6 linked regions of the Homo sapiens genome follow. The protein of the gene in region 1 interacts with the protein of each later gene in a biochemical or structural test. Each region holds a gene or a part of one and is shown in the gene's direction. Other genes may lie near its edges.

Evidence for each region.
Region 2: the proteins of TRIM5 (region 1) and LGALS8 form a complex in vitro, tested with the Homo sapiens proteins (one study listed by BioGRID).
Region 3: the proteins of TRIM5 (region 1) and RUNX1 form a complex in vitro, tested with the Homo sapiens proteins (one study listed by BioGRID).
Region 4: the proteins of TRIM5 (region 1) and SUMO1 form a complex in vitro, tested with the Homo sapiens proteins (one study listed by BioGRID).
Region 5: the proteins of TRIM5 (region 1) and PRKCG form a complex in vitro, tested with the Homo sapiens proteins (one large-scale study listed by BioGRID).
Region 6: the proteins of TRIM5 (region 1) and UBE2W form a complex in vitro, tested with the Homo sapiens proteins (one study listed by BioGRID).

The regions. Positions count from the first base shown.
Region 1 is NC_000011.10:5,665,220-5,668,195, reverse strand, and holds part of TRIM5 (tripartite motif-containing protein 5), read left to right. Parts: intron 1-96; coding exon of another isoform or gene 97-297; exon of another isoform or gene 298-478; intron 479-484; coding exon 485-507; intron 508-2,114; coding exon 2,115-2,215; intron 2,216-2,513; coding exon 2,514-2,540; coding exon of another isoform or gene 2,541-2,689; exon of another isoform or gene 2,690-2,800; coding exon 2,801-2,976.
Region 2 is NC_000001.11:236,533,855-236,537,640, forward strand, and holds part of LGALS8 (galectin-8), read left to right. Parts: intron 1-3,642; coding exon 3,643-3,731; intron 3,732-3,786.
Region 3 is NC_000021.9:35,039,287-35,043,072, reverse strand, and holds part of RUNX1 (runt-related transcription factor 1), read left to right. Parts: intron 1-3,646; exon of another isoform or gene 3,647-3,786.
Region 4 is NC_000002.12:202,207,463-202,211,248, reverse strand, and holds part of SUMO1 (small ubiquitin-related modifier 1 isoform a precursor), read left to right. Parts: intron 1-442; coding exon 443-514; intron 515-3,246; coding exon of another isoform or gene 3,247-3,381; intron 3,382-3,786. UniProt on the Homo sapiens protein: Ubiquitin-like protein that can be covalently attached to proteins as a monomer or a lysine-linked polymer.
Region 5 is NC_000019.10:53,888,666-53,892,451, forward strand, and holds part of PRKCG (protein kinase C gamma type), read left to right. Parts: intron 1-972; coding exon 973-1,084; intron 1,085-1,220; coding exon 1,221-1,352; intron 1,353-3,008; coding exon 3,009-3,165; intron 3,166-3,786. UniProt on the Homo sapiens protein: Calcium-activated, phospholipid- and diacylglycerol (DAG)-dependent serine/threonine-protein kinase that plays diverse roles in neuronal cells and eye tissues, such as regulation of the neuronal receptors GRIA4/GLUR4 and GRIN1/NMDAR1, modulation of receptors and neuronal functions related to sensitivity to opiates, pain and alcohol, mediation of synaptic function and cell survival after ischemia, and inhibition of gap junction activity after oxidative stress.
Region 6 is NC_000008.11:73,872,354-73,876,139, reverse strand, and holds part of UBE2W (ubiquitin-conjugating enzyme E2 W), read left to right. Parts: intron 1-3,786. UniProt on the Homo sapiens protein: Accepts ubiquitin from the E1 complex and catalyzes its covalent attachment to other proteins.

The DNA.
Region 1 (2,976 bases):
GGGCTCAAATTCTCCCACCTCATCTTCCCAAGTAGTTGGAACTACAGGCTCATGCCACCATGCTTGGCTAATTTTTTTTTATTTTATTTTTTGTAGAGATGCGGTCATGCTATGTTGCCTAGGCTGTACATCTGTTTAATAAATCAAAGAAGCACTAATTATTTAAATCATTTCATGGAGAGCCATATACGTTTGGAGAAAAACAAATTGTCAGTCACTTCTTTTCCTTCTAAACATGTCCCATCTGCAGAAACCAGGAGCCTCTTCCACAGGGATGAAAGCTATTTCTACTTTTAAGGGAACTTGGAAATCTCACATGAGTCTTCTGGGATGATTGCCTTGAGTCTTATCTTTGCTTTTTTGTCTTTCACACTGTCACCATCTCCATTCTCAGCACATTAGGAACCGGGGGAAATGTGATGAAGCTTTATAAGTGAGGAGAGACTCTTTCTTTCTTAATTGATGTTTTCTCTCTTCTTCCTAGGGTGTGGATGGCGTCATAAAAAGGTATGTGTGGGAGGACAGAGATGGTCCTTTTGTGCAGTGAGGAGAGATTTATAGCCATTAGAATTGTCCTGGGTTTAATTAGAATAAAACATCTCCCAGGGCAGAAAAATTTCGATATTGTTTTATCATAAATTTCTGGTCATAAATCAGCATTCGAATGTTCTATAACTATTAAGAATAGACCAGATTTGGCCAGGTGTGGTGGCTCAAGCCTATAATCCCAGCACTTTGGGACGCCGAGTCAGGAAGATCAGGAGTTTGAGACTAGCCTGGCCAACGTGGCAAAACCCTGTCTCTATCAAAAAAATACAAAAATTAGGGGGGCGTGGTGGCCCGTGCCTGTAATCCCAGCTATTCGGGAGGCTGAGGCAGGAGAATTGCTTGAATCCAGGAGGCAGAGGTTGCAGTGAGCCAAGACCATGCCACTGCACTCCAGTCTGGGCGACAAAGTGAGACTCTGTCTTAGAAAAATCAATAAAATTAAATAAAATTAAAAAAAAGAAAAGGAATAGACCAGATTCTATGGTAGAAAATTTGGGTGGTGGAGACTCGGAGTGTGGGTCAGTAGTGGTTTCAGGGAGAAGGTGTTGCAGTGTTGGACCCCTGCGCCATCACCATTTTATTACCTACATCTAGTTCTCTTTCTGTATTTAATAGGTTCTTGATTTATTTTGGATGGGCCATATCTTCTTTTTCTCTTATATACCCCTAATTGTCCATTGGGACAATTCCCACATGTTTATATTTTCCTCCTGGAAAAAGACCAGTTCCTCTTCATTTATATTTAGATTTCCAAAATCAGATGTTTATTTCCGGAATAATATTTCAAAATAATATTCTGGATAATATGTGGTCATGGTACAAAGAATTGATCCACCTCAGTTGCATTCTTTACAAGAGCATAAAAAGGTGCTATTCTTGTGTCTAAAATCGCACACCTCGCACACCTACGTGGTGGTATCAAGTTCTTTCTAACCACACGATATTCAGGCCAGTAATAGTTTAGTGCACATAATTTCTCATTTGCCAAGTGTTTGTAATTTTTCCCGGAAATCTGAAACCTTAGATGTTATCTGAGTACCTCCCTGCTGGGAATAGCTTTGAAGGTCTTAGGCCTCTCCAAACAGGATTCCTCTCTTGATATGTGTCAAACACCCAGGAGCCAGGTTCTGCAACCTCACTTTCTAACCATCTCCCTGGGAACTCAACATACATAGCGATGATGTTTCCACCCATTAAATGTTAGGGTTTCTTTTGTAAGGCACCAAAGTTTTGTTTTGTTTTGTTTTAAAATCCTTTTTTTTTTTTTTATGTCCTATGAGTTTAAGAATGTAGACAGGGAGAGGTTAATTATTTCATTTTAGAAGGAAGAAACTGTGCTTCTGAGAGGTTAAGATCTTCCCACGTTCTCACAGAAAGTAAGTGGGAAGGCAAACATGAGAACATTTTGTTTGCCTCCAGGGTCAAGAGTTTGCACTCTCCCTTCTCAGGATCCCCAAGAAGAGAGTTCAAGTGCCTCAATGGGTTGAAATGATAGGAAGTCAGGGGTGTTCCACGGACACAAGGTCAAAGGTTTGGAAGTTTTTTTTTTTTTTTTTAATTCTTAGGACGGAGAACGTGACCTTGAAGAAGCCAGAAACTTTTCCAAAAAATCAAAGGAGAGTGTTTCGAGCTCCTGATCTGAAAGGAATGCTAGAAGTGTTTAGAGGTGAGGAGAGCTAGATCAACAACAGGGTTATGGAATTCAAGTGGTGTTAGGGTGCTAAATAGGGAAGAGGGTGCAGTTTCCAAATATGGATAGAGGGGATAGGGGAGGATAGATATTGTCTGCTGCTGATGGGATTATATTTAATGGGAAATGGCTAGGTGGCTGTTTCATCTCATCATTCAGCAATTTACTGCCCTACCATAGGGCATACCTACTCTTTCCCTAATCTGGAGAGAAAATGAATTTCAGTGCTGACTCCTTTGTTTGTATTCAATATTGTGCATTTTTATCATTTCAGAGCTGACAGATGTCCGACGCTACTGGGGTAAGGAGAAGTCACATTATCATAAGCCACCCTGCGGCTTATCATTATTATTATCTTTATCTTTTAGAATTTTATGTTCTCTATTAGGCTCATGTTTTAAGATTTATGATTCTCCTTCCAAGACACACATAACTTACCCCTCCTTATAACTTCTAAACAAGGTTCCTCCCAGTTTTCTCTCAAGTCTTTATCAAGATTTCTCTCATATCACAAATAAAGTTACATTATATCCCTTAGCTGACCTGTTAATTTTTCTACAGTTGATGTGACAGTGGCTCCAAACAACATTTCATGTGCTGTCATTTCTGAAGATAAGAGACAAGTGAGCTCTCCGAAACCACAGATAATATATGGGGCACGAGGGACAAGATACCAGACATTTGTGAATTTCAATTATTGTACTGGCATCCTGGGCTCTCAAAGTATCACATCAGGG
Region 2 (3,786 bases), on another chromosome or scaffold:
ACACAGATGGTACTGTGTCTCTGCTACTCTACCAATGCCACTGCTGTCTCTGACCCCAGATGTAGCTCCCTCTGACCCTGGATGCAGCTCCCTCTGACCCTCGATATAGCTGCCCCTGACCCCGGATGTAGCTGCCTTTGACCCCAGATGTAGCTTTCTCCAAACCCAGATATAGCGGCTGCCCCCTTGCCAGAGTGAATACTGCGTCATTGTGGCTTCTTCTTGTCACTGGTTCTTACTTAAAAGCTGAGCTGGAAGTTCTAATGGGCAGTTTTGTCACCTGCTCTTACCTTGTTGCAGTCTAGATGAGGTCTAATGTTCATAAGCTAGGGGATTTTCAGATATGGAAAGGGATACCAATTTTCAGCAGCCAAATAGAGTATCACATTTTCACTCCATGTTTCCTGGGTGTCTGTTATGTTTCCTGGGTGTCTGACTCTTAGGCTTCTTTCAAGCTGCAGTCTGCCTAATAGAGAGCCTTGCATTTAATCATCAAAAAGGCAAAGCAATATGAATCAGCAAGGGTGTTTTGGGAAATAACAGCAAACCTGACTGTGGCGTAAGCTTGTGGTATTGTCTCCAGTGTGATCAGATCTGTATTTTAATTTTTTAAATGTAAATTAATAATGATCTGTGAATCACCAAAGTAGCTTGGAGTAGCCTAGAAAACAATGTATGTCCTCCGTTTTCACAGAAGCCACATAGTCGTGGGTTAAATGAGTCAGCGGCAGGGCACTGTGTCTCATAGTTAAAAAAAAAAAAAAGTATTACTGAAGTAATGCAGGATCTTTTCTGAAGTAGAAGGCATGATGAACCCAGAAAACTAAAGCAGCAAGTGGCCACCGTTCTTAGCATAGTTGTTTCTCAAACTGGAACAACCTATAAACAGTTGTGAACAAGGTATTAGAAGTGATGGGGGCCGGGTGCGGTAGCTTCTCCCAAAGCTCATTACCTCCCAAAGCAACCCCAGTACTTTGGGAGGATCACTTTGAGCCCAGGAGTTCCAGACCAGCCCGGCCAACATGGCAAAACCCCATCTCTCTAAAAGTACAAAAAATTAGCTGGGCATGGTGGCACATGCCTGTAGTCCCAGCTACTTGGATGGCTGAGGCAGGAGAATCGCTTGAACCCGGGAGGCAGAGGTTGCAGTGAGCTGAGATCACGCCACTGCACTCTAGCCTGGGGGACAGAGTGAGACTCTGTCTCAAAAAAAAAAAAAAAAAAAAAAAAGTGATGGGAATAGATTGTTTTGTCTCAAAAAGCTCTTTCCAACACTAAAATGAAACATATAATTAAAAATATTTTTCTGGCTATAGAAATATCGATGCTTATTATAGACATCTGCAAAGTATGAAAATATATGAAGAAAAAAATTAAAATCCCATCATCCCCCATGAAAACTATTGTTATCATTTTTGTCTGATTTCTTTAGTGTTTCTCTTTTTCTTTTTTTAATTTTTAATTTTTTTGAGTATGTAGTAGGTATATCTATTTATGGGGTATATGGCATATTTTGATACAGGATACAGTGTGTATTAGCAAGGTTTTCTTTTTAATGTTTATATTTATTTAGTTGAGATCATACTATATATGGCTCTATAGATTACTTTCTCACTTATATTACTAACTTGTGTTATTAAATATTCTGCATAAAGATAATTTTAAGATGAAATTTGATGTTATAAAAACTTCTCATTTTATTAAGAGATTAACGCTATGAAACCTGCTGCTATATATTCTTGGAACCAGCTGTGACCCAAAAGATCAATGTAGGGATGTAGGTCCTTCCCCATTCTCTACACACAAAATCAGATACTCTGATGTGCAGCTGTAGCCCCAGTCTACACTGTCTGTTGTATTTTTTGTTTTCTGGTGTCATGTGCCTCCCACCCTGCTCCTAGCAATTGCCATGACAACAAATAGATAATTGGCTTCCGTAATTTCTCATCTTATTGCCTAAGGCAACAGAGAGCTTGTGGGCTCAGCTTGCGGTTCAGCAGCTGCTTTGTTGCCTCTCCTCTGTATGTGTGAGGCCTGCCAGAGCCCACTTTCCAGACAGGTGAGAGTTCATTCATTCACCATGCAGTTACCGATCGTCTCTTGACCTGTGTCCTGGGGAGGTAAAGGTGATGAGCCAGTTCTGCCCCATGCAGCTCACAGTCTAGGCAAAGCTACATGCAAACAAACAGAATCCAAAGTGCTATCATGAACCCTCTGAGAGGGGCTGACTCAGCAGCCCAGGGAGCTTGAAGAAGGCTCCACAGAGGAGGCTGTGCCTCAAGGCGATTTCGGTTTAGGAGCCACCAATTTATAACCACTTTTCTGTGGCCCGTCTTATTTTATTTCTTATTTCTTGACAATCAGAAGTACCTTGGGTAGGTTTTACCATGCACATCGTAATTTGAGTGAGCTTAGTGTGAGGCTTAACGGTGTGTGGGCTGTACATCCTGGTCAGATGCTCTAGATGGAGGCAGATGGTTGTGATGCAGGAGAGGCAGCCACATAGCACAGGTCCCCAGCCAGTGGACTGGGAAGACAGTGTAGTCATCTCTGGGGAAGGGGAATGACAAGATCTGGCAGTGTGGCAGGTCCCAGAAAAAAAGGGCTGGGTTCTGGGCAGTGAGGGTGCAGGTTGAGACCTGAATACTGGGTGGAGCCAGCTGTCAGAGTCCACGCCTGCAGACTGGACTGGTCCACGGCAGGTGGATGCCATGTCTTGAAGACCCACAGGCACCCACTCATCCTCATGATCATGCAGTTCTCTGGTTTCTAACAGTGCAGTCTGGGTTGCAGTCTGGGAGTCCAGCAGAGAAGAGCAGGCCCTGGAATCCCAGGTGTGGGGGCGTGGCTTAACGTGGAGTTTCCTTCAGAGGCAGTGAGTGCTTGTCATTGTCTCCGTCAGCATTGGCTTTGGGCCTAGTGTGGCCTCGAACCTTCTGTTGGGATCAGCAGTGGAACAGTAGGAAAAGGAATGAGTAGACATGGCATTGCAACAAGTCTTTTTTTTTTTTTCTGTTAGAATTATCATATTAAGCAGAAGTTTTGCTTCACAAACTCTCAGCCAAATACAAAATACTATGAATAGTATTTACCTTGTGTCTCTTTCCAAAGAACTCATAGTGGTTTGCAGCTATTGCAGATATCCTGGCCATGAGGTATGCAGTTCCTTTTTTTTTTTTTGAGACGGAGCCTTGCTCTGTCGCCCAGGCTGGAGCATAGTGGCGCGATCTCGGCTCACTGCAAGCTCCGCCTCCCAGGTTCGTGCCATTCTCCTGCCTCAGCCTCCCGAGTAGCTGGGACTACAGGCGCCCACCACCACACCCGGCTAATTTTTGTATTTTTAGTAGAGACGGGGTTTCACCGTGTTAGCCAGGATGGTCTCGATCTGCTGACCTCGTGATCCTCCCGCCTCGGCCTCCCAAAGTGCTGGGATTACAGGCGTGAGCCACCGCGCCCGGCCGCAGTTCCTTTTTCTAGCTGTTTGAATAGGAAAGATGACTTGGAAAATGCTGGATTCTGAGCAGATTTATGTGCAGCCTTAAAAAGTGTAGTTTTTCTCTATCAATAATGAGTGTGGGTTGTAATTGCTTAGTAAGTAATTTTGTTTATGTAAACGTACATTTGTTAAATTTTTTTTCTTAGGTAATCCCGTTTGTTGGCACCATTCCTGATCAGCTGGATCCTGGAACTTTGATTGTGATACGTGGGCATGTTCCTAGTGACGCAGACAGGTAAAATCACTGTGCTAAAGGAAGGAGCATGAATAGGCTGTCTTTTTGTGATTGT
Region 3 (3,786 bases), on another chromosome or scaffold:
AGCTCAGACACACTGCTCTCACTTGCGCAGGCTTCACTCTTTGTTGGGGAGACACGTGTTATACTCTCTTGGCTCTCTGAATCTCTCTCTTTCTCTCCCTCCCTCATCTTGCAATAACACTGAGTAATGATGCCAGAAAGGAGCCAAGGTGGAGGAATAAACACTAAATCCGAAACATGACGGAAATTATGTATTTTATTGCAGTGACAGAAAGAGTAAGGCCCTTGCTCAGGTTTACCCATGAAAATTATGTTTGGCTGCACGTAGAGAAAAGCTGACCACAGTGGCTTGAGCAGACGGGCAGGAGTTCCAGAGTGAGCAGTCCAGGCTGATACGGTGGGGTGCAGGACACTCCTATGTTTTGGTCCCACCATGCTGAGGCCAGGGAGAGATGGCCTGCACCTCTGATCTGTCCAGGCAGAAAGGACATGGGAGGCCTCAACCCCTTCTTGTGGGTCCTGGTATTTTTATTCAGGAAGGGAAGCCCTTCTCTGCAAACTTTCGCTGACATATTGCTTAGGCCACAACTAGGTCACAGGCCTCTGGCTGGAGGGAACTGAGGACAATGGAGTTGTCACTTTCCAGCCTGGAGAGTGGAGGGAAGCAGAGAGGAAGGTAGCTGGGAGCAGATGTCTCGTGAACCCAGAGCCACATCTGCCAGACCTGGTGACAAAGACAGGCTGTGTGCCTTCCCAGTCATATCTTGTATCATTTGTTTTCTGTGCCAGCTGGGCTTTGGAAACAAATGCAGAGAAACTTTATGTTCTTCCTTCATTCCCTCTTGGAAGTTGCAGATGGATGCCAAGGGTGAATATTTATTGTTGACCCATTGAAAGCAAACTGGACAGGAGAAGGGATGAGGTGGGGGAAGGGGCTAGGTTAAATGGATCCAAGTTCACACCTATTTTCAGTGTCAAAGCCCCAAATCACACTTGAGCGTCTCCTCAAGTTAGAATGAGCAATAGAAAACCAGACAGCCCTGTATCTATGGGAATGTTGCTTGCATCAGAGCCACCACACCTTGCTGTGAGGTTGATCGGTTTCTCGCAGCTGGAAATAGTTGCTTCCCGCCCCCCATCTTCCTCACTCTTTTAAACTCTCAAAAATCCCCCAGCCTCCCAAATTTGTTTTAATTTTTAAGAGAATTCTTTTCTACAAAAGAGGGAAACCTTCTTTCAAATGGCCCTTCATAAATTTCCCTAAAGAGGTTTTTATCTCTGATAGAAATATGAAAAACAGATAACCAGATAATTGCCCTCTATCTAGGCTTTAAACACTTATTCATACATTGAATTTCTGCAAGTTACAGATGATTGTTGCTGTGTGATTACTGGCCCTGTCTATTTCCTCAGCATGGATGCAAATCTTTCTCCCTGAGAAAGTCATTGCTTCGTTAAAAAAAAAAAAAAAAAGAAAGAAAGAAAAAGAAGAAAGAAAGGATGAATGAAAAGAAAGTTGTTATTCAGTTTTTCTCTTGAAATTAGAAATTTCTTTTTGTTTTGCTTTCATTTTGTTTTTCTGCAAGATCGGTGTTCATTTAGAGAATTGTTGATTTTGTATGCAGCACTGCCCTCCCATGCCATGGTCCATATGTGTCCATTTTTTGATGGACTTCTTTTTAAACAATGAGTTCCCCAAGACATTTTTGGGGCCTCAAATGGGAAAGGTCATCACAAATAGAAATCTCAGTTTGCTAGTTGGGCTTGCTCAATCGCTCTGCTGATCTCAGGACTGATGCTGCTTTGCATAAATGCGAAGTTCATGTTAAATTGATTCTAAATCAAATACTCAACGTATTCAGTCTTGAAACATGTCCATTGGGAGAGAGAACTATGCAGCTCCAACATTTTGCAAAGATTCTACTTTGCTTTCTTTGCCAACATCCAACTTTTACTTCTGGGCGTTAGAATACCCTCCGTAGAGACTGTGACTTCTCAAAAGAAACTTTGCTAGTCTCGAATGGAGAATGAAATAATAAGATTTGAGCAATAAATCAAATATAGCCTGAGAGCAACACCACAGAGCAGCCTCTGTCATCTCCTCTCCTTGGGAGGTACGTGGGTCTTGATCAGCTCTCATGTGCTTCTGAAAATGTGTAGGTTTTCATATATATGTTTTTCATTGTTAGTAGATCCTAAAGAAAGACCCAGAAAATCTTGCAGCAGTCAGCTTGCCAGATGGGGGTTATGTTAAAAAGAGCAAACAGAAGTCAGAGCTCTGAACACACCGCAGGGTATTCCATAGTCACATTCCATTGTGGGTGAGTTTTTGTTGTTGGTTTTTTTTTTTTTTTTTTTTTTTGGATGGAGTCTACTAGCTCTGTCACCAGGCTGGAGTGCAGTGGCCCCATCTCAGCTCACTGCAATCTCCGCCTCCCACGTTCAGCCATTCTCCTGCCTCAGCCTCCTGAGTAGCTGGGATTACAGGTGTGTGCCACCACGCCCGGCTAATTTTTGTATTTTTAGTAGAGACAGGTTTTCACCATGTTGGCCAGGATGGTTTCGATCTCCCGACCTCGTGATCTGCCCGCCTCAGCCTCCCAAAATGCTGGGATTACAGGTATGAGCCACTGCACCCGGCCCATCCTAGGTGAGTTTTTTAAGGGAGACAAAAAATGTCAGAGTGGCACTCATTGCTCAAGAGAGAAGCACTTCCCCTTTTACTGTGCAAAATTTTATAATATGTATAGCTATCAATGTTTGTTTCTTATTACTGCCCCAGAATGTGCAAAAGAGAGTTTAGGTCAACTAAGATACATTGGTTTGAGTGCCATTTTTTTCAGGAGCAGTTTTAACACCAACCACAGTTTGCTGCACTTTCTTACACAGCTTCTGTTTGCACTTTGAACTCTGTGCACTGAGCCCCTCATTCCACACCATCTGCAGGCTGCATCTGGGCAGCTTCATCCAGCTCGGTAACAGTCACAGCTGAACTTGACATTCACCCACTTTGAAAGTATAGAATTCATAAAATCTGAAACCACATATGTGTATAAAACCCATGCAAGAGTGGGTAGGAACTAAAAGGAGGAGAAAAAGTAGTCCTCCCCTTCAGGAGTGTTCTCTCTTATCCCAGCCCCTTTCATGTAATGAATGGGTGAATGGGTGAAAATGAAATTATTTAGGCATTGACTGACAGGTAGGAACAGAAACTCAGGCTTCTAGTTTATTATTATTTATTATTATTGAATCTACTGTTTCTAAAGATGAGAATGGCTTTTACTTCCAAAGTTCTAGAGGAGAGGAACAACGTTAAGCAACCTTAAACAAATATTAGCACTGTGAAAGGTGCAGGGTCATATAAAGAAGTAGAAGTGCCGACAATGAAAATTCTATCCAACTGTCAATCATTCCATATCATTACTTCATTTTTTTAAATAAAGGCTGTGTCTCCCATATGCTTCCCTCCAGGTTGTATTCAAAACAAAGAAATAATTGTATTACAGATGTGAATAAATCTGTTTAAAAAATAAGTGAACCCTGAGACATATGAACTATGAGACATTGTTCTATATGATGCTTTGTAAGTTTTATGTGCTGTGTCATAGAGTTATATAGAGTTATGTATATATATAGTTCTGTATAGTTTCAGTTGGCATCTAAAAATTATATAACTTTATTTTTTAAAATCTATAATTATAAATATTTTTAAACTGCTAGAAAGGAAGAGCCGAATATTTGGCTGGAGTGATTTTTAGACATTTCTCTACCTTAGGGCACCAGAGAGGTTCACTTGCCCAGGGTTCCATAGCTGGTTGGTGCCAGAGTCCGAACGAGAAACCAGGTC
Region 4 (3,786 bases), on another chromosome or scaffold:
AGTATAGTTGGAAGCTAGTGAGGGTGCACGTCCAGTTTCTGATCTGATCTTTTATTCTAGCTTACAGATTTAGGGCAAAGTGAATCGAGTAGTGGTCAAGAGCATAGGCTTAGAAACAGGTTTGGGCTTAAATTCTTGGCTAGCTCCAAGCCTTAGGTTCCCTAGCTGTAACATGAAGATAAGGTGGTAATACCTACCTTCCAGGGTTGTTGTGTTTAACACTTATGATTATGTATGTAAAGAATTGGTACAGGGAGGGCCTTGCAAATAGTTGCTACTCAGTACAGTATATAGTATTTATGATTGAATTAGCTTGTCTAATTTTATTTTCTATGTAGTGTTCTAAGGCTTTCATGCTTGCTTTTTGTGCATCAAAGTTACCATTATGTTTTCTAATATTTGTGTGTGTATGTATGCATTATTATTATCTTTACCTTTTTAGGGTGTTCCAATGAATTCACTCAGGTTTCTCTTTGAGGGTCAGAGAATTGCTGATAATCATACTCCAAAAGAAGTGAGTATACTTTTCTCCTGAGTCAAGAAAAAATTTAAATTCTCCTTTGAGCAGTTTGGTTCACTGGTGTTAAAACTGCCCTTTTCTTGAATATTCTCTGATTTAAATGGCATATCATTTGTTGGAGAGAAGAAATAATGTTTTGGGTTGAACTTCCCCTATAGTGCCTTTAAAAGTGCCAATAAAAAGGGTGGTAGAAACAAAATGAGTACTGAAATTGTCATAGGTCACATGCTACATCCTTTTTGAAGATAGACAAATGTTCCTCAAATTTGGTAAATTTCTGGTATACTTTCATGGTGATGGTAACATTAATGGCTGGATTTTCATTTTTGACCTATTTTGAGAATGTTAATACAGAAGCATAGTGTATATTAATATATTTGGCTCTGTCATCTTGTTTTACCCTATTTTTTTATGCTTCTCTGTCTTCATTTGATTTTTTTATTCTATGAGCAGTTTGCTTTGCTTTTATATTCCACCCATCTTCCCTCTATAGAGATATCTCAAAGTAGTGTGTGTGTGTGTGTATGTGTGTGTGTATCTATATACATAGATTCCCTTCATACACAGAGTAACATTACTGATATTTCTGATAGTGGGAACAATATAGGGTTATTAACTTTTTATTTTGAAAATATTTCAAACTTACTGAATTGTGAGAATAGTGTAATACTCTCCTGTATAACTATTCCTTAGATTCACCAATTAAAATTGCACAGCATGTGGGCCAGGCACGGTGGCTCATACTTGTAATCCTAGCACTTTGGGAGGCCAAAGTGGGTGGATTGCTTGAGTCCTGGAGTTCAAGACCAGCCTGGGCAACATGACGAAAACCCGTCTCTACTAAAAATAAAAAAATTTGGCCAGGTGCAGTGGCTTATGCCTGTAATCCCAGCACTTTGGGAGGCCGAGGTGGGCGGATCACGAGGTCAGGAGTTCGAGACCAGCCTGGCCAGTATGGTGAAACCCCGTCTCTACTAAAAATACAAAAATTAGCCGGGCGTGGTGGCATGTGCCTGTAGTCCCAGCTACTCGGGAGTCTGAGGCAGAAGAATCGCTTGAACCCGGGAGGCAGAGGTTGCAGTGAGCCGAGATTACGCCACTGCACTCCAGCCTGGGCAACAGAGCGAGACTCTGTCTCAAAAAAAAAGAAAAAAAGAATTAACTAGGCTTAGTGGTGCATGTTTGTAGTCCCAGCTACTTGGGGGGCTGAGGTGGAAGGATCACTTGAGCCCAGGAGGTCGAGGCTGCAGTGAGCCCTGGTCATGTCACTGTGCTCCAGCCTAGGTGACAGAGTGAGAACCTGTCTCAAAAATAAAGTAAATAAAATAAAATAACATTGTGCAGCATTTGATAGCTGGGATTGGTGGTGCACGCCTATAGTCCTAGCTGCTTGGGAGGCTGAAGCGGGAGGATCACTTGAGTGAGCCCAAAAGTTCGAGACGAGCCTGGATAACAGAGCGAGGAGTCCCCTGTCTCAAAAAAAAAAAAATATTATGTTTTTCTAGTATGACTACTAGAATGCAGTCATAGCTCACTGCAGCCACAAATGCCTGGGCTCTAGCAATCCTATCACTATCAGCCTCCTGAATAGCTGGGATTACAGGCATGTGCCACCATGCTCTGCTTTTAAATTTTTTGTAGAGATGGAGTCTCCCTATGTGCCCAGGCTTTGATCACTTAGTTTAAGTGTTGTCTCTTTTTTTTTTTTTTTTTTTTTACTTTGTAGTTAACTGTTTTTCCTGTTACAATTAAGTAATTTGAGGGGACACACTTTGAAACTATGCGAATATCCCCTTTCTCATCAAATATTCCCCTTAGGTTTAGTGTCCACCACCTTCTTGAACACTTCCTTACTTTCTGGCACAGTAAGAAGTTCCAAACTCATCTTTTACTTTCCTTTAACTTGGCATAATCTCTGGGACCATACAGTAGATATCTAATACATTTTACTGACACATGCCTTACACATTCCTTGTAATTAAGAGATTATTTTTTCAGAGGAATGTTGGTGCAGTGGGAGACAGTAGGTCTTTAGGGAGTGACCCTCCTGTGCTGTTGTTCACTTGTCTCTGTTAATGTACTTCTTGAAGTTTGTAGCTTTATATTCTTTATAGCTCAAGGACTCATGCTGTCTTCCTGTTTTGAAGGTTTCTAATAACACTTGGAATTTTATTCCTTGCAGTATTTACCATGCTATATGGGCAATTAAAATTGTTTTAAAAGCATCTTTTTTTTTTTTTTTTTGAGATGGAGTTTTGCTCTTGTTGCCCAGGCTGGAGTGCAATGGCACAATCTTGGCTCACCGCAACCTCTGCCTCCCGGGTTCAAGCGATTCTCCTGCCTCAGCCTCCTGAGTAGCTGGGATTACAGGCATGCACCACCACGCCTGGCTAATTTTGTATTTTTAGTAGAGACGGGGTTTCACCATGTTGGTCAGGCTGGTCTCGAACTCCCGACCTCAGGTGATCTGCCGCCCCCCCAGCCTCCTAAAGTGCTGAGATTACAGGTGTGACCCACTGCACCTGGCCTAAAAGCATGTTTAATAATTATTTAAATATTCAAATATGTTCCACAACCAAGATAGCTTAACACTACTAGAGCCATTCTGATCACTTTAAAATCCTAAATTCACATGTGTTATGTTTAGATTTCTTAACATACTTTATTTTCATATTTAAAATTCTGCACAAAAATGTTACCTATAAAATTTAAAACTTTTTGGTCAGGCACAGTGGCCCACGCCTGCAATCCTAGCACTTTGGGAGGCTGAGGCGGGCTGGATCACTGCAGGTCAGGAGTTGAGACCAGCCTGGGCAACATGGCGAAACCTCATCTCTACTAAAAATAGAAAAAGTAGCCAGGTATGGTAGCGCACGCTTGTAGTGCTAGCTACTTGGGAGGCTGAGCTGGGAGGATTGGTTGAGCCCAGGATGCTGAGGTTGCAGTGAGCTGAGGTTGAGCCCAGGAGGCTGAGGTTGCAGTGAGCTGAGATTGTGCCACTGTACTCCAGCCTGGGCAATATAATGAGACCCTGTCTCAAAAAACAAAAACAAACAAACACCAAATTAGATATATCCTATTAAACTATCACTTAAACTATTAAATACATGTTTCATTAGATTTAAAAGTTCTTTAACATGGCTGTCAAAAACACTTCAGTTTTATATAGCGAATAAACTGGGAAGTGAAATTGACTCAGGAAAGTAAGATGCATAACTAAATAGACAGAATCAGAAGGAAAGACACCTCTATATTCTTTAGATTAA
Region 5 (3,786 bases), on another chromosome or scaffold:
TGTACACCAATTATTTTATTTAGGCCTCCTGGGTTCCTATTATAACTGAGAGGTCATGTTCTCCATTCCACCTGGAGCTCAGAGAAGGCATACCATATGGACACTGACAGAAGCTGCCAGTGAAGGAGCTGGGGTTCAGGGTGGCCCACAAGTCCTCAAATAATAACTTGTGGGAGTTGGGGGGATGGGAACTATGGGAGGTTGGAAGCTCCTGCCTCCTTCATGTTCTGCCCAGATATCATTTGGTCAGCGAGGCCCCCCTGCCACTCCCCCTGCACACAGTTTTGTTGTTGTTGTTGTTGTTTGAGACAGAATCTTGCTCTGTCATCCAGGCTGGAGTGCAGTGGCACAATCTTGGCTCACTGCAACCTCGGCCTCCTGGATTCAAGCAATTCTCATGCCTCAGCCTCCTGAGTAGCTGGGATTACAGGCATGCACCACCATGTCCGGCTAATTTTTGTATTTTTAGTAGAGACAGAGTTTTGCCATGTTGCCTAGCCTGGTCCGGAACTCCTGAGCTCAAGGCAATCCGCCCACCTCGGCCTCCCAAAGTGCTGGGATTACAGGCATGAGCCACCGCACCCAGCCAGGACCACCGTATTTAAAATTTCAATCCCCCAACTTCTGGTGGTCCCCATCCCTGCCTCATTTTTTCTCCAGAGCACCCATTACCAACCATCAAACTATATGTTTTATTTATTTACCATGTTTACATTCTGTATCCCTCCATTAGGAAGTAAACTCCATGTGACAAAGAGGTTTTTTTTTTTCATTTGTTTAATGCTGGGTCCCCACACCAAGAACAGTCCCTGGCACACAGCAGGTGCTCAATGATTATTGGTACATAGAGTGAAAGAGATGGAGCCTCAGGCTGACCTAGAGAGCAAGGCAGGAGGAAAAGATAAAAGGGCCCCTCCCCTGGGGTTTTAGGACCCTCCCAACGCCCCCTAAGCCAGTCTTCTCTGCCCCCAGGACCCCCGGAACAAACACAAGTTCCGCCTGCATAGCTACAGCAGCCCCACCTTCTGCGACCACTGTGGCTCCCTCCTCTACGGGCTTGTGCACCAGGGCATGAAATGCTCCTGTGAGTGACCTGGGCCTTGCCAGGGCCCTTCCAAAGCGCCCGGTCTGGGTTCCGGGAAATGCCCGGGATGGGGTGGGGGGTGGAGTCTTGGCTTGGGGGCGGGGCCTGAGGTGCTACCCGCAGCTTTCCCCTCCAGGCTGCGAGATGAACGTGCACCGGCGCTGTGTGCGTAGCGTGCCCTCCCTGTGCGGTGTGGACCACACCGAGCGCCGCGGGCGCCTGCAGCTGGAGATCCGGGCTCCCACAGCAGATGAGATCCACGTAACTGGTGAGGCCCCGCCCCCTCGCCTGGCCCCGCCCCCTCCCCAAGTGTGAGGCGGGGCTGACCCAAGGCACTTGTGCTGGCCCAGCCCTACCCCAAAGATGGGGCCACGCCTCTTTCTATGGTCACGCCCACACTCCTGACCCCACCCCAAAGGCCGAGCACACCCAGCCATACCCCTTTTGGCTCGAAGCCCCGCCTCCAACCTGGCTTCTTGCAACTTTCTGCACCTGTTAATGACTTTGACTTTCTTTTTTTTTTTGGGACGGAGTTTCGCTCTTGTTGCTCAAGCTGGAGTGCAATGGCGCGATCTCGGCTCACTGCAACTTCCGCCTCCCGGGTTCAAGTGATTCTCCTGCCTCAGCCTCCCGAGTAGCTGGGATTACAGGCGCGTGTCACCAAGCCCGGCTAATTTTTTGTATTTTTAGTACAAACGGGGTTTCACCATGTTAGCCAGGCTGGTCTCGAACTCCTGACCCCAGGTGATCCCCTCGACTCGGCCTCCCAAAGTGCTGGGATTAACAGGCGTGAGCCACCGCGCCTGGCCAATGGCTTTCTTTTTTGTTTTTATTTTATGTTTATTTTTTTGAGATGGAGTCTTGCTCTGTCACCCAGGCTGGAGTGCAGTGGTGCAATCTTGGCTCACTGCAATCTCTGCCTCCGGGGTTCAAGGGATTCTCCTGCCTCAGCCTCCCGAGTAGCTGGAATTACAGGCGCCTGCCACCACATCCGGCTAATTTTTTTTTTTTTTTTTTTTTGAGACAAGATCTCGCTCTGTTGCCCAGGCTGGAGTGCAGTAGCATGATCTCAGCTCACTGCAACCTCCGCCTCTCAGGTTCAAGCGATTCTCCTGCTTCAGCCTCCTGAGTAGCTGGGACTACAGGTGCATGACACTGCACCCAGCTCATTTTTGTATTTTTAGTAGAGACAGGGTTTCACCATGCTAGCCAGGCTGGTCTGGAACTCCTGACCTCAGGTGATCCGCCCGCCTCCGCCTCCCAAAGTGCTGGGATTACAGGGGTGAGGACCGTGCCCGGCAATGGCTTTCTGGGTATAAGGATCTTGAGAAGGGAGAGTACCTGGTTCTGAGGGAGGCTGTGGTTCAGTACTGGTGACATGGCCAGGGTCCAAACTCTGGTTCCTAATGGAGAGAAGGGCTCTGGATCTGATTTCAGGGTCACTGGTTGCGGAAAGGGCTCTATGCCCTGTCTTCTGGGTTCTGGAGAGGTAAGAAGTCATGAGAAACGAGACTGAGAGCTTGGAATTCTTTTTTTTTTTTTTTTGAGACGGAGTCTCGCTGTGACGCCCAGGCTGGAGTGCAGTGGCGTAATCTCGGCTCACTGCAAGCTCCGACTCCTGGGTTCACGTCATTCTCCCGCCTCAGCCTCCTGAGTAGCTGGGACCACAGACACCTGCCACCACGCCCAGCTAATTTTTTTTTTTTTTTGTATTTTTAGTGGAGACGGGGTTTCACCATTCACAGGATGGTCTCGATCTCCTGACCTTGTGATCCGCCCGCCTTGGCCTCCCAAAGTGCTGGGATTACAGGCATGAGCCGCCGTGCCTGGCCAAGCTTGGAACTCTTGATTGCTGACTGGAGGAGGGCTGGGAGCCCCTTCCTGGATCTCTAACCCGTCACACTCTTCCTCACTCCCCGTTTAGTTGGCGAGGCCCGTAACCTAATTCCTATGGACCCCAATGGTCTCTCTGATCCCTATGTGAAACTGAAGCTCATCCCAGACCCTCGGAACCTGACGAAACAGAAGACCCGAACGGTGAAAGCCACGCTAAACCCTGTGTGGAATGAGACCTTTGTGTTGTGAGTCTGGGGTGCAGGGAAGGCAATGACAGCTGACAGAGAATGATCTGAGGGTCCTAGTGGCCCCCAGAGAGCAGCTGATGGGAGGGGTTAGGATAGAGGGAACCCAGAAAAGGGCAGAAGAAGATGGTGGGAAAAGGGAATAGAGTGATTGAGGGAGTGGGATGGAGATACAGAAACGGAGAGACAGCCAGACCACTGTATAATTAGTCTCCATTGAAGCCCCCAACTTTAGAGTTAGACAGAGATGAGAGAGAGAAGAGAGAGTCTCAGAAGAGGCAGAAACCCAAAGAGAGACACAGATGGAGAGGGAGGGGAGAAGATGGGGGATGGCAGGGAGACAGAGATCAGTTGACAGGAAGACAGAGTGATAGAGACCCAGAGAGGAGAGAAGGGTACAGAGACTCAGAGAGAGAGATCTCGAGAGACAAGAGACAGAGATGGGAAGGGGCGGAGAATGCAGGAGGAAGGGAGAGGAAGAGCTCTCTAGGTTTACTTCAGGCCCCAAAGCCCTAGCTGGAGAGAGAGCCCGGCTGGGAAGGTCAGAGGTCGGAGACCGACAAAGCAGGAGAGGAGCCCCAGCTGGCTGGGTTTGCCCCCACCTCCAGCACCAAGGATGGG
Region 6 (3,786 bases), on another chromosome or scaffold:
TGGATTTAATAATAAATAGTCTCATAAGAAGAGACAGATAAGAACAGCATATTTAAGTTAATTGTGTTTTGTTCTTGTTTTTTGTGTTGAGATGGAGTCTCGCTGTGTTGCTCAGGCTGGAGTGCAGTGATGCCATCTTGGCTCACTGCAACCTCCGCTCCCAGGGTTCTAGCAATTCTCCTACTCAGTCTCCTGAGTAGCTGGGATTACAGGCGCTGGCCACCACGCCCAGGTAATTTTTTTTGTGTTTTTAGTGGAGACTGGGTTTTGCCATGTTGGCCAGGCTGGTCTTGAACTCCTGACCTCAGGCGATCCACTCGCCTCGGCCTCCCAAAGTACTAGGATTACAGGTGTGAGCCACTGCACGCGGCCAAGTGTGTTATTATATTAGAAGGTGATAGTGCAGTGGAGAAAAAGCATGGAAGAAGACTAGGAAATTGATCATTTGGGGATTTCGATTAGGAAAAAATAAGCTGTAACATGGAATGACCATGTCCTTAACCCAAAAAGCTTTTAGTAGATTTATCTAACCCACACCAGGATGTTGCTGCTGCTGCTGAAGTTACTTAAGCTCTAAGAGGAACTGTATTTTTTTTAAAATGCCATATTATACAAATGTAACATGGGATTTCATTACTTGGTAATGAGTAAAACAAGTAAGGGTAGACTTTGAATTTCTTATTGGAGAGTATGTATTTTAAAGTTGAGCTAGTAACTGCTTTAATGTATTCTGTCAGTGCGTCTCAACCATCTTTTAGGTTCTGCCCACATAGAAAGTAAGTTTTGAATAGTACACTAAAGTAGATGAGATTGGGAGGCTAGAAGCACCTGGCAGGCAGCACCTCATGAAACTCCCGGGATGGGAGATCAATATTCTGGCACACCTGTAAATGCTGGGGACGCTCTACTCCCTAATATTGCTAGAGTTCTGCCATATACAATTCAAGATAGTGGTTTTCAGACTTATGTGATCCCTTTGAGACATTCTTTACTCATTTTCTTTTTTTCTTTTCCTTCCTATTGTTTCTTCCTAGAAAAAAGTAATGTATCACCAAGTAAGATTACAGTTAAATTATGTTTTAAGAAACCTTTTCTTTTTTGGAGACAGGGTCTCACTGTGTCACCCAGGCTGGAGTGCAGTGGCGCTGTCTCGGCTTGCTGCAGTTTCAACCTCCCTGGGCTCAAGTGATCTTTTCCATCTCAGCCTCCTGAGTAGCTGTGACTACAGGTTTTTGTATTTTGTAGAGACAGGTTTCACTATGTTGCCCAGGCTGGTCTGGAACTCCTGGGCTCAAGCAGTCACCTGCCTTGGCCTCCCCAAATCCTGGCATTACAGGCGTGAGCCTATGTGCCCAGTCTTAAGAAACCATCATTAAGAGAATGTTATATTTGTGGTGATACCTAAAATTGATAGGAGTTAAACAGATCTACATTTAATTTTGGTAATTCTAAAAATCTTTAAATATTACATGAAAAGTTTCTTGTAGCAAATTTTTAGTTTTAGCGTTTTAGGGACTGATTATTTGGTAGAAACTTTTATCCCCAAACTGCAGAAGCATTCTTTTATTGAAGTGAATTTTTATGTGATTCTAAACATTTTTGAAAGTGTAGCAGTATTGAGGTATTCTTTTCTCAGGTGAATCCTAAAATTGAATTTTTTGTTGTTGTTGTTAAATGCTTTTTTAAAATTTTATTTTATTTTATTTTTTTGAGACAGAGTCTCGCTGTCGCCCAGGCTGGAGTGCAGTGGTGCGATCTCGGCTCACTGCAGGCTCCAATCCCCGGGCTTCATGCCGTTCTCCTGCCTCAGTCTCCCGCGTAGCTGGGACTACAGGCGCCTGCCACCTCGCCCGGCTTATTTTTTGTATTTTTAGTAGAGACGGGGTTTCACTGTGTTAGCCAGGATGGTCTCCATCTCCTGACCTCGTGATCCGCCCGCCTCGGCCTCCCAAAGTGCTGGGATTACAGGCGTCAGCCACCGCGCCCGGCCGTGTTTTTAAATTTTATAACCTTTTTTCTTTCCTATGTATTATTTAATGTTATGAAGTACTTGACCTCCTGGATATAATTTCTGATTTTAGAATTTAACTGCTTCATTCAGACTTCTCGTAAGTTAGCAATTTTAACATATATGCTGTCTAATTTTCTAATTTGACATTCTAGAATTGTTAATTTTAGATAAAACCTCCTGTTACGTTGTGTCTTAAGATCTTAGAAAGTCAGTGCATAGTAGTTGATGTTTGTCAACTCTAAAAACAGTGATATAATTGAGAGAAATGGTCAGTTGAATTACCCTTGTGAAATTTCTGCATTTACTTCCTCTCTTACCTAGCTGGGTCTTAGACTGTTAACTGTCAATTTGTAGGGATGGAAGGAGGTTGAGATTTAATAACAGGAGATAAAGTATGAATGTGTGCTTATTTTCAGACTTAGAAATAATGCATTATTTTGGATTATTCACAGCTTTTAAAATTTTTTCTCTCTGAGACAGGGTCTCACTCTGTCACCCAGGCTAGAGTGCAGTGACGTGGTCTTGGCTCACTGCACCCTTGTCCTCCCAGGCTCGGGTGATCCTCCCACTTCAGACTCCCAAGCAGCTGGGACTATAGACACGCCACCATGCCTGGCTAATTTTTTTATTTTTTGTAGAGATGGGTTTTTTCCCTGTTGCTCAAGTTGGCCTTGAACTCCAGGACTCAGCCATCGGCCCACCTTGGCCTCCTAAAGTGCTGGGATTATTACAGGATGAGCCATTGCCCCCAGCCCACTGCTCTTTGCTCAAGTAATTGGCTATAGTGATTGAGAGAGATGGAACATGGACTCTTACAGACATTACTGTTGTAGTAGTCATGTTGCCTTGACAGTTAGATACGACGTCTGTTTGTTGATGTCAGTATGGAAGGGTTACAACATAATTAAAAGTTAGAAAATAGGCCAGCATGGTGGCTCAAGCCTGTAATCCCAGCACTTTGGGAGGCTGAGGTGAGTGGATCACCTGAGGTCAGGAGATCGAGACCAGCCCGGCCAACATGGTGAAACCTAGTCTCTACTAAAAATACAAAAAAAATTAGCCAGGCGTGGTAGAGCGCATCTGTAATCCCAGTTATTTGAGAGGCTGAGGCAGGAGAATCCCTTGGGCCCAGGAGGCGGAGGCGCCTTGCAGTGAGCGGAGATCATGCCACTGGACTCCAGCCTGGGCGACAGAGTGAGACTCCAGCTAAAACAAAAAAAAAAAAAAGGAAAAAAAAAAAGGATTATCTTTGAACAGTAAAAATTTACAATTATAATTTTACTCAGTACACAAGTATACACATGAGAACTTCTTTTTAAAATATGATACATAAAGTAACCTTGTGTTATAAACTCAGGAATATTTCTTCTTTTCTTTAGCTATAAAAACTATAAAGTAGTTTAGTAAATGCTTAATTCTTGACTGAAAAGTTACATAATTACACCAATGATTTCTCTGTGATGCCAAACTGTGTTCATTACTTACACCTTCACAGCATCAACAGATTTCAGAGCTTAGTTTCACTACTCAGTTACTGTGTAATTTTGAGTAAGTCACTTTCCAAATAAGTACATACTTACCAGCAGTTACTGCTATGTCTCTATTAGAATGAAATTAGGTTAGTTGACTTCCTTTTTTATAAAGAATATGAAGATACTATGAAGAACATTACAGTTATGGCAAACGCATGCAGCAAGAAAATAAGCCACTTTTTTGGTATATTATATAAATATGAATTTTAAATTATTCCTTTATAGGTACTGAACCTTACTATT